Linked DNA regions of Homo sapiens: region 2 is linked to region 1. Evidence: fine-mapped expression QTL. A gene starts in region 1. The other region holds a variant in brackets. All regions are shown on one strand. Distances are from middle to middle.

Evidence for each region. PIP is the estimated chance that this variant, and not a neighbour inherited with it, causes the effect. A credible set is the group of variants that fine-mapping cannot tell apart.
Region 2: its variant is the best candidate, but not a certain one, in a credible set for the expression of CCDC116 in spleen (GTEx, PIP 0.54).

The regions. Positions count from the first base shown.
Region 1 is chr22:21,630,085-21,635,415 of GRCh38, reverse strand. CCDC116 (coiled-coil domain containing 116) reads right to left here and starts at 2,656. Exons shown (of 5, transcript NM_152612.3): 1 at 2,589-2,656; 2 at 2,163-2,296; 3 at 846-1,394; 4 at 150-731. The coding sequence starts at 2,234. RefSeq lists an enhancer at 2,425-2,924 and a silencer at 5,168-5,331.
Region 2 is chr22:21,602,282-21,607,650 of GRCh38, reverse strand. The region is part of intron 2 of UBE2L3 (ubiquitin conjugating enzyme E2 L3); the gene reads right to left. Among named protein-coding and RNA genes, the nearest start is that of YDJC, 25 kb to the left of the region's middle. The variant A/C (reference allele first, on the strand shown) is at 3,068.

The sequences.
Region 1 (5,331 bases):
AGGGTGAGGTGCAGGCCCTGCCAGGGCTGGGCCCTCTGGCTGGAGCTCAGGGAAACAGGTGGGTTTTGTAATTTGGGATCTGAGTCAGGTGCCTCCTCCCTGGAGTGGAGTGAGGGGCTGGGGACATTGGGCTTCTCCGTGGGTGTCACCTTGAGTTTGAATCTGGTGGCCACCTGGGCACTAGACATGGAGGGGGAGCCTCCTCTGTCCTTGCGTTTTCTCTGAAGCATCTTGGGGCTGGAGACTGTGGGGCGGGGGGAAGCATAGGGCTGCCCGCCATTGGTGGGTTTAGCTGGCTCAGAGCCCAGAGGCGGCAGATCTGAGGTGGGCTCCAAGCTGGTGGGGAACAGAGGACGGCCGTCGCGGCAGTGGGCGCCACGGAGCTTATCCACAGCCTGGCTGACCACGCTTTGCAGGGCAGGGAAGAGGCGGTGGTCAGCCAGGAAGTTCAGCGTGCGATGGGGCTCACGGAGCGGACAGTAGCCAGGCAGGTCGAGGGACTCCAGCTGGCTCAGTAATGACTTGATCTCCTTATTGAACTCTCGCTTGCGGAAGATTGGCTCCTGTTCTCCAGGCCTCGGCTCTGATGCTTCAGGCACGCCAGAGCTTGAGCCCAGCAGCCCTGAGAACCAGGACAAGGGCTGCTCCTGTGTCCACTGAAAGCTGGTCTGGCTACCCAGCGAATCCCACAGCAGGGAGTCCCTCTGGGAGCAGGACTGACTGAGGCCTTTCTGCAGAAAGAGGGTGACTCTGTGAAGTGTTCAGGAGCAGCCAAGCCAGGGCTGACCCTAGCCCTGGGCTCTCCATGGGAGTCCACCCCACCCAGCCATGGCCCTGGCTCTCACCCCTTCCCTCTCCAGCTGTAGCAGCCGCTTGAGGTTCTTCTCCAGCAGGAGTTTGTCCCTCACAGGTGGCAATGAGCCTTGGGCACCTAGGTCACTGTCCCGGCTGTGGGAGCCCAGACAGCCGGCCATGAGGCTGCTATGGCAGTTGGACATGGAGCTGGAGCTGGATGGGTAGTTGTTGGGGTGTCCAGTGCAGAGGGTCGGCCGTACACGGTGCCGGTGTACGGTGCTGAGGCTGGGCCGGGCATGTGCCCGCCGTCCACCACTTGGCACCTCCACTGGGTCCTGCACCTCCACAAGCGGCACCCCAGCCTCCGTCTTCATGGCAGCCATGCGCTCAGTCGCCTTCTCCACCACTGTCTCCAGGCTGTCCAGGACCTGGCTCTCAGTTAGGAAATCCAGAAAGTGGCCAAAGGGCTGAGGGTGCCTCTTGTTTCGGCGTTGGCCCTGGAGTGCTGAGCTGCCACATGTGGATGGTGGGTGTGGCACACGGCCCGGCTTGCAGGCTGGCCGCATTTCTGGGACCAGTGGCTTCTTGGGCAGCTGCACCTGAGCAGACAGGTATGTCACAGGGGGCAGGGGTGCCCTACAGGTGAAGGGTTCCCTGGGGTAACACTAGGACCTGGGTGGGAGTGAGTAGTGGAAGGAGCTGCATTTTGGAGTCTGGAAGCCCTGGGTTTGGACCCTGGCTCTGCCACCTACAGCCTGATGCCAGTGTGCAAGATGGCCCCTCTTGAGGTCCAATGTCCTCATCTGCAAAGTGGAGGTCTATTCAGGGTCACCCCGAAGCTTTCCTAACACCTACATTTCACACACACAAGTCCTGGCTAAGGAGTCTGCAAGCCTGCTTCTGCCCTGACACGTGGCAGGATGAGCAATCATGAATCTCTCGGAGTCTCCCTCCAGCTCCTCATCTGTCCATGCAGCAGGCCATCCCTGTATCCATGGCAGGGCTGCAAACAACATCTGAGGTCTTGAGTGCAGACAACACCTGAGGTCTTGAGCCCTGTGCTACCCGGGCCTGTTTCTCCAACTTGAGCCATAGGCACCTAGTCAACTCCATGCTCCCACTCTAGGGTCCCAGTCCACCCAAGCACCTTCTGGGTCGCTGGAAGTCAGGAGGAAACAAGGAATGAAATTGAGTGTGACAGGGGCAAGCAGTGGGGGACATAGGAGAAGTCAAGGCAATAAGGACTTCACTAAGAGGCCCAGAGAAGTCAATAGACAATGAGAAATGGGGGTTGTGGTCTTGGGTGCCAGGGTTGGTGGGGAACATGTTGTGGCCTCAAGGGTCGGCGCCCTGCTGGGCACACTTACCCGTGCACTGCACATGGAGTGGCTGGCCTCGTCATCGGCCAGGTAACCCGAGTGGTGGCGGCACCTGGCCATGTGGTCACCTGGCAGGTGACCGGGCCTGCTGCCCACCTCTCTCTTCAGCTGCGCATTCCTCTCTGCGTGGGGTGGGGAGACAACCTGAGGGTCTCCAATAGGTCCACGCATCTGTGGCCCTGGAGTCTGCGGGTCCCTCGCTCCCCGCACCCCGCCTCCTTCATGCATCCAGCCCTTCCTCTGCTCCATGGCCCCCATGCGTCTGCAGGCAGGCAGTTTCCAGAGTCATCGGGGTGGAATCGCTGAGGACAATCCTGTCTCCGATCATCTTTGGATCTGCGTGTGCTCGACCCGCCCTCCTCCCAAACCCTGGGCAACCTGGCTTTCACCCCAGCCCAGAATCAACAGACTCACCAGAAACACCGCCTTGCTCCGCACAGGCCAGTACAGTCTGCGCCCTCACTGGAGCAGCTGCACAGTGCGAGGAAGTCGGCTGGCGGCCTCCACTTGCTTATTTGCATACCACATCCTCATTGGTTCTTACCGAGGAGCTCGTCCACTTCCCTCTCCGACACAATGGTTGGGGGCGGGGCCCACATTGGCCCCACCTCCAATTCTCTGGGCTCTGCCCTCCCACACTCGCCTGGGAGCCGCAGGCTGAGGATGCTGGTGCCCACGCTCCCCGCTGCCGGGAGGACCCCCCACCCACCACCGAAGCTGGGGCTAGGCTCTTTGATCTGCTCCTGCCCCGAGGGGAGCCTAAAAGCCAAAGCCACGTCTTCCACCGGTGGCACAAGCACCTTCCTCGTGTCCTCCTTGGTTGCTGCGCAGCCCTGGGCCTCCTGCTCCTGTTCGTTTCCAGGGGCCTCTGCCCTTCCCGCGGTGTGCACAGCCCCAGGTTCTGCCTTGAGACCTCTCCCCTCTGCAGTGGAAAGAGTGCCGGCTCTAAGTCACAGACCTAGCTTCAGTTCCTGGCTCTGCTCTTTCCTGCCAATGTGACTCAACCTCTCAGCATTAGTCCCACACTGTAAATGGGCTTGAGTGTTCTTCCAATATGGGAGTATGGGATTCAATAAAATCTCCCTACAGCACACCCAGTAACCCAGTGGAGCCTTGTGTATTCTTTAATTAATTAATTTATTTATTTGGAGACGGGAGTCTCGCTCAGTCGCCCAGGCTGGAGTGCAGTGGCGCAATCTCGGCTGACTGCAAGCTCCGCCTCCCGTGTTCACGCCATTCTCCTGCCTCAGCCTCCCGAGCAGCTGGGATTACAGGGGCCCGCCACCACGCCCGGCTAATTTTTTTGTAGTTTTAGTAGAGATGGGGTTTCACCGTGTTAGCTAGGATGGTCTCGATTCCCTGATCTTGTGATCCGCCTGCCTTGGCCTCCCAAAGTGCTGGGATTACAGACCTGAGCCACCGCGCCCAGCGGAGCCTTGTATATTCTTACCTCCTCTCCCTCCCTCCTTTTCCCCTTTGCTCAGTAATACCCCACCATGGTGTCACTTCTTCCAAAAACCTTTTACTGTGAATTCTGCCACGCCCTACGCAATTCACAGTAAACCCCATTCCAGACTCTACCATACCATGTTGCTACTTATTTTTCTATCAGATGGTGCTTCTTTGGGGCCAGAACAGAGGCAAGTCACCCTTAATCTCTAATACTTTCAGTGTCTGGCACCAAGTAGGTGCTCAATAAATGTCAGTCTCCTCCTTCCCACCTGCAGACCCTCGGGACCTCTGACCTTTCCAAGATCAGCTTCCAGTGGAGAACGGTGGTTGGTTGAGGTCTGACAATTCACCAGTCACTATAAACACATCAGTCCTTATGCCAAGAGCATGGCTGAAGGACTCTATGAGGCTTTCAATCCTCACATGCCTCACGAAATATTGTTCCTCTCAAGCTCTGCTCTGTCCTCTCAGCTCTGGCTACCCACTAGGTCAGGGACAGAGAGGACATAGCAGGCCTGGGTGCTGGCCCCGAGGTGTGAGGTTCAGTCTTAGCTCCACTACTCCTGGCAGGACCACACTTTCGCTCTCTGAACCCCAGTTTCCTCATCTGTGAAACAGGAATGACATTACCAATTTCATAGCCCGGACACAAATACCACACTTTCCATGGGAAAAATCAAGACTGTCACATTGCAATGGAAACTGTGGCTGCCAACCATAATGACTATTTATACAGTCATGGGTAAGGAAAGCTTTTCTGGACCAAAGAGAAAACAGTGAAGTTATGAATGTAAAAGCTGTAGCCTGGCAGAGAGCTCAAGATGGAAACTGGAGATAATGTTTTCTCAAATGAAGCCTTAGTGTATATGCTTTCTTTCATTTTCTTAGTGTCTAGAGCTCAAGAAAAAAAAAAAATCAACAAATCAAGAAAATGCCTGCTCTTAGAAAAATCTGCAAAAGATCAATAGGCAATTTGAAAAAGAATAAAAATAGCTAATAATATGAAAATTTTCATTCGCACTGCTAAGAAACTACTAGAATGTGATAACATTGATATAATCATCTTTATGTTCTCAAAACAACACACAAAAAAGTTGGGTTGGGGAGAAAGGGAGTTGGGTGTGTTTATTTGCTTAGAGAAAACACTGGAAGGACACAACCCAGAAAGTTTACAATGGCAATCTCTGGGAAGGGTAGGAGATTCTTTTTTTTTTTTTTTTTTTTTTTTGAGACGGAGTCTCGCTCTATCGCCCAGGCTAGAGTGCAGTGGTGCGATCTCGGCTCACCACAACCTCCGCCTCCCGGGTTCAAGCCACGCTCCTGCCTCAGCCTCCCGAGTAGCTGGGATTACAGGCGCGTGCCACCACTCCCGGCTAATTTTTGTATTTTTAATAGAGACGGGGTTTCCCCATGTTGGCCAGGCTGGCCTTGAACTCCTGACCTCGTGATCCACCCGCCTCGGCCTCCCAAAGTGTTGGGATTACAGGCGTGAGCCACTGCGCCCGGCTTCCTTTTGATATTTTACATATTAAATATCACTTTTGCAGTCAAGGAAAGTTCCGCATTGCAATGAATCCATCACTGGTCTGGTTAGCGCGGGAGCAGTTGCCGGGTCCTTGCAGGGGCACGCCGGACCGCTAGGTGGCGAGAACAAAGGCGAAGTGCAGCCGCACCTGGGCGTGTGCGTCGGGGCGGGGCCCGGGCA
Region 2 (5,369 bases), 28 kb after region 1:
GGGAAGCCCTTCCCATTGTACTCCCTTTTCCCTCACCCAGGTCTGCCATGGCACTTGCCATGGCACACCCAACCCAAAGAAATCCAAGCTTCACAGAGAGCCCAAGAACAATCTTTTTTTTTTTTTTTTTTTTTTTAAGACGGAGTCTCGCTCTGTCGCCCAGGCTGGAGTGCAGTGGCGCGATCTCAGCTCACTGCAACCTCTGCCTCCCTGGTTCATGCAATTCTCCCACCTCAGCCTCCTAAGTAGCTGGGATTACAGGTACCCGCTACCCTGCCCGACTAATTTTTTTTTTTTTGTATTTTTAGTAGAGATGGGGTTTCACCATGTTGGCCAGCCTGGTCTTGAACTCCTGACCTCAGGTGAACTGCCGGCCTCGGCCTCCCAAAGTGTTGGGATTACAGGAGTGAACTACTGCACCTGGCCCCAGGAACAATCTTGACAGCCCTACACCCCAGCCCCATATCTTCAAGCCGTGGCCTAAGTACGCACTCCAGTAAACAGAGCTCCTCTGCTGGGGAGCAAGGCTGGCGTGCGCCAGTTCTCCACATTCTCCTACATCCAAGCCCTGCCCTGGGAGGGGAGGCATGGAGCAAGGGCCTTAAAGGATGGATAAGATGACATAAGGCTGAGGAGTGGAAGAGGCCTCCCAGGCAGAGAGGACTAAAGACTAGATGGCAGGGACTTGGAAGGAATAGCATAGAGCAAGACAGGAGGCTGCGGGCAGGCAGTGTGGCCCCAGGGCTACTGAAGCCACGCGTCCAGGTCTGAATCACCACCGAGCAGCTGAAACCACTGTCAGCATATTCATCTGTGGGGAGTCACCCAGGCTGGAGTGCAGAGGTGCAATCACGGTTCACTGCAGCCTTGACTTCCCGGGCTCTAGCAATCCTCCCACCTCAGCCTCCCAAGTAGCTGGGACTACAGGCATATGCCACCACACTCAGCTATTTTTTTATTTCTTATAGTGATGGCGTCTCACTATGTTGTCCAGGCTGGCCTCAAACTCCTGAGTTCAAGTGATCCTCCCAAAGTGCTGGAGTGCTGGGATTATAGGAGTGATGCACCATACCCAGCCAGCTTTTAGTTTTCAAGAGGAGAATTAAATGGTGGTGGTGGTGGGGGGAAGTAAGTAAACATCATTGTCATTTACACTGCTTGAGCCATGTAAAAATAGCTTTCCCTCACTGGGTGTGGTGGCACACTGGGAGGCTGAGCCAGGAGAATCACTTGAACCTGGGAGGCAGAGGTTGCAGTGAGCCAAGATTGTGCCACTGCACTCCAGCCTGGGCAACAGAGTAAGACACACACACACACACCACACACACACACACATACCACACACACGCGCGCGCGCACACTTTCCTGCATGACTTTTGGTTGGTGAAATCTGCTAAAGGTCTTCACTGATTGTCCAGGACTGACCAACCTCCCCTGTTCCCCACTGTGGGCCAGGTCCTGTCCGAGGAGCTGGGGTGAAGCATGAATGAGGCCATCTGGCCCCAAGTTAGCAGGTCTAGCCTCAGACTTTGCCTCTTCCTAGCTTAAAGAGTCTGAGAATGTTCCTGTACATCTGTAAAATGGGAGTAGCAACAGCCTGTACCCAGAGTTTATGATGAGAGATAAGGACTATAAAGTCCTACATGCCTGACACATGGGCAAAGCTCAAGAGAAGCAGATTTGGCTGGGTGCAGTGGCTCATGCCCGTAATCCCAACACTTTGGGAGGCTAAGGCAGGAGGATCACAAGAGCCCAGGAGGCTGAGGCTGCAGTGAGCCATGATCACACCTCTACACTCTAGCCTGGGTGACAGAATGAGAACCTGTCTCAAAAAAGCCAAAAACAGACTGGGCGCAGTGGCTCATGCCTGTAATCCCAACACTTTGGGAGGCTGAAATGTGCAGATCACTTGAGGCCAGGAGTTTGAGACAAGCCTGGCCAACATGGTGAAACCCCGTTTCTACTAAAAATACAAAAATTAGCCAGGCGTGGTGGCACATGCCTGTAATCCCAGCTACTTGGGAGGCTGAGGCAGGAGAATCACTTGAACCTGGGAGACAGAGGTTGTGGTGAGCTGAGATTGTGCCATTGCACTCCAGCCTGGGCAACAAAAGTGAAAATCCATCTCAAAAAGAAAAAGAAAAAGAAAAAAAAGAAACCCTATCTATACTAAAAAAAGGCCGAGGCAGGTGGATCACGAGATCAGGAGATCGAGACCATCCTGGCTAACACGGTGAAACTCTGTCTCTACTAAAAATACAAAAAATTAGCTGGGCGTGGTGGCACGCACCTGTAATCACATCTACTCAGGAGGCTGAGGCATGAGAACTGGTTGAACCCAGGAGGCACCGGCTGCAGTGAGCCAAGATCACACCGCTGCAGTGAGCCAAGACTGCACCACTGCACTCCTGCCTAGGCGATAGAGCAAGGTGTTCTCTCAAAAAAACAAAACAAAACAAAAACAAGTCCTTTTGTAAAGACAGGATCTCACTTTGTTGCTAACAATTTTTTTAAATTAGCTGTGCGTGCTGCTGGTGCACACCTGTAGTCCCAGCCACTCAGGAGGCTGAGGTAGGAGGACTGCTTGAGGCTATAGTTTTAAGTTGTTAGTTGTTAAGGCTGTAGTGAGCCATGATCACGCCACTGCCTTCCAGCCTGGACAAGACAGTGAGATCCTGCCTCTTTTTTCTTCCAAAAAGAGGAAGGAAAAAAAAGAAGCAGTTCTGTTACTACATGAGGCAGGCCAGGCCTCTCACCACCCAGGGAACTTGGCCAAACTCATCTGAACTTCTCTGGGCCTCTTTCCTAGTCTGGGGATCTGTGGATGGTCAAAGGAGTGGCTCAGGTGTGCATAAGTCACACAAACTATGTGCCTGTCCCAGAGATTTTTGGTGAAAGAGGCATGCAAAAATTAAAACATAAGATATACCTTCCGGGTAAAGGCCTACAGCTCTACAAGTGAATTTCAACATTAGAGCTAAACTTGCCCTTTGGGAAGGCCACTCAGAAATAACAAGGGATGTTAATGAAAAAACATGGTTTTGTTGTAAAAAATATATATATTATA[A/C]AACATTGCAGAAAATTTGCCTCCAACTTAAGCTGCAACATTTCAATGTCAAATAAACCAAAGATTTTAGCATTATCTATTTATTTAGAGATAGAGTCTCACGCTTGCCCAGGCTGGAGTGTAATGGTGGGATCTCAGCACTGCAACCTCCGCCTCCCGGGTTCAAACGATTGTCCTGTCTCTCAGCCTCCCAAGTAGCTGGGATTACAGGCGCAGGCTGCCACGTCCGGCTAATTTTTTGTATTTTAGTAGAGACGGGGTTTCACCGTGTTGCCCAGGATGGTCTTGAACTCCTGAGCTCAAAAATCCACCCAAGTCAGCCTCCCAAAGTGCTAGGATTACAGGCGTGAGCCACTACGCCCAGCTGATTTCAGCATTATCTTCACATGAACACGACTAGTGTTTTTCTGTTATGCCTGCCTTTGACTGTCTTGTGCTCCCTAAGCTCATACTGCTGTATTGAGGAAGTCATTTGAGATGTAAATTAATTCCTTATGATAATTTTACACACTCTAAACTAGTTCAAAAACTTAAACTCCAGCACTTTGGAAGGCCGAGGTGGGAGGATTGCTTAAGCCCAGGAGTTTGAGGCTGCAGTGAGCTATGATTACACCACTGCATTCCAGCCTCGGCAAGAGTGAGACCCTGTCTCAGAAAAAAAAAAAAAAAAAAAAAATCAAAAAACACCTTTTCAATCCATGTCTAAATTCTAGGACAGACTTTTTATCCACTTGTCTTTTTTTTTTTGAGACAGAGTCTGGCTCTGTCGCCCAGGCTGGAGTGCAGTGGCGCAATCTCGGCTCACTGCAAGCTCTGCCTCTCATATCATTCTCCTGCCTCAGCCTCCCGAGTAGCTAGGACTACAGGCACCCACCACCACACCCGGCTAATTTTTTGTGTTTTTAGTAGAGACGGGGTTTCACCGTGTTAACCAGGATGGTTTCGATCTCCTGACCTCATGATCCGCCCGCCTCAGCCTCCCAAAGTGCTGGGATTACAGGCGTGAGCCACGGCGACCAGCCCACTTGTCTTTTTTTTTTTTTTTTTTTTTTTTAAGACAGAGTCTCGCTCTGTCACCCAGGCAGGAGTGCAATGGCACGATCTCGGTTCACTGCAGCCTCCACCTCCTGAGTTCAAGCGATTCTCCTGCCTCACCCTCCCAAGTAGCTGGGACTACAGGCATGCACCACAACTCTCAGCTAATTTTTTTGTATTTTTACTAGAGACAAGGTTTCACCATGTTGGCCAGGCTGGTCTCGAACTCCTGACCTCAGGTGATCCGCCTGCCTCGGCCTTCCAAAGTGCTGGGATTACAGGTGTGAGCCACCGCACCCGGCCCACTTGCTATTTATAAAGAAAGAAAGATACCGGTTTTAAAGTGGATTTTCTTTTATATATAGTATGGCTAACATTTTCCTGTATTTGCTTCTAGTCATTATAATGCATGCATGTAAATAAGAGTTGATCATTTCAACCTGGGAAAGCCAATTTAAAAAAATTTGACCAAAGTTTCTCAAGTACTTAGATGCCAGGTGCTTTTCCGTGCCATCTCCAGCCCATATTCCGCCCCTCCTGGTCCCCTAACACCAACCCTGGGAAGCCAGTGCTGCCATCACTTGCATTTGGAAATGGAGCAAGTGAAGTACGATTGAGTGACTGGCCTGAGACCTCCCCTAAACTCAGCCTTCCTGTCCCGGAACACAACCCCCCACATCTGCAGGTATCCATCTGGGCCCATCCTCATCACCTTTGTGGGATGCGGGGACGAGGGGAACTGGCCCTTTTCTCGAGTCTTCCACCAACATCCAATAAATTGGCAGGACACCTTTTCAGGCTGCAAGTAGGGTAAAAATCTCAGATCCTTCACAGCTCTTGATATCAACCTCCCATGGCACAAAGCCATTTTGTGGCAGCTAAGACTAAGAGGAAGCTCTTTGCCATATGGCACCGAACTATCTGGGGTCTTTCACCCACTTGTCCTAGCTCTAACCCTGTGGTCAAATCTAATCTTCCTTTCCCATGGCAACCTTTCAAGAATCCTAAAACCCCATTCCACTTCATGTTTTCCCTTCCCAAGTAAAGACCCAGAGTCCTTCATCCCACAGAAGTCACCGTTTCATGTCACTGCTGTGAAGCAGGGAAGACCACCATACAGCTCTCTGGCAGCCACAGAGGAAGTCAAGGTGTCTTCTGGTTGTCTGACTTGGACTGCTGCTACATGGCACGTCCTTGTGGTGTGTTCCTAGCTGGCTGTAGGACACCACAGACAGGACTCATGGCTGACCTGAAGAGCTGGATCCTA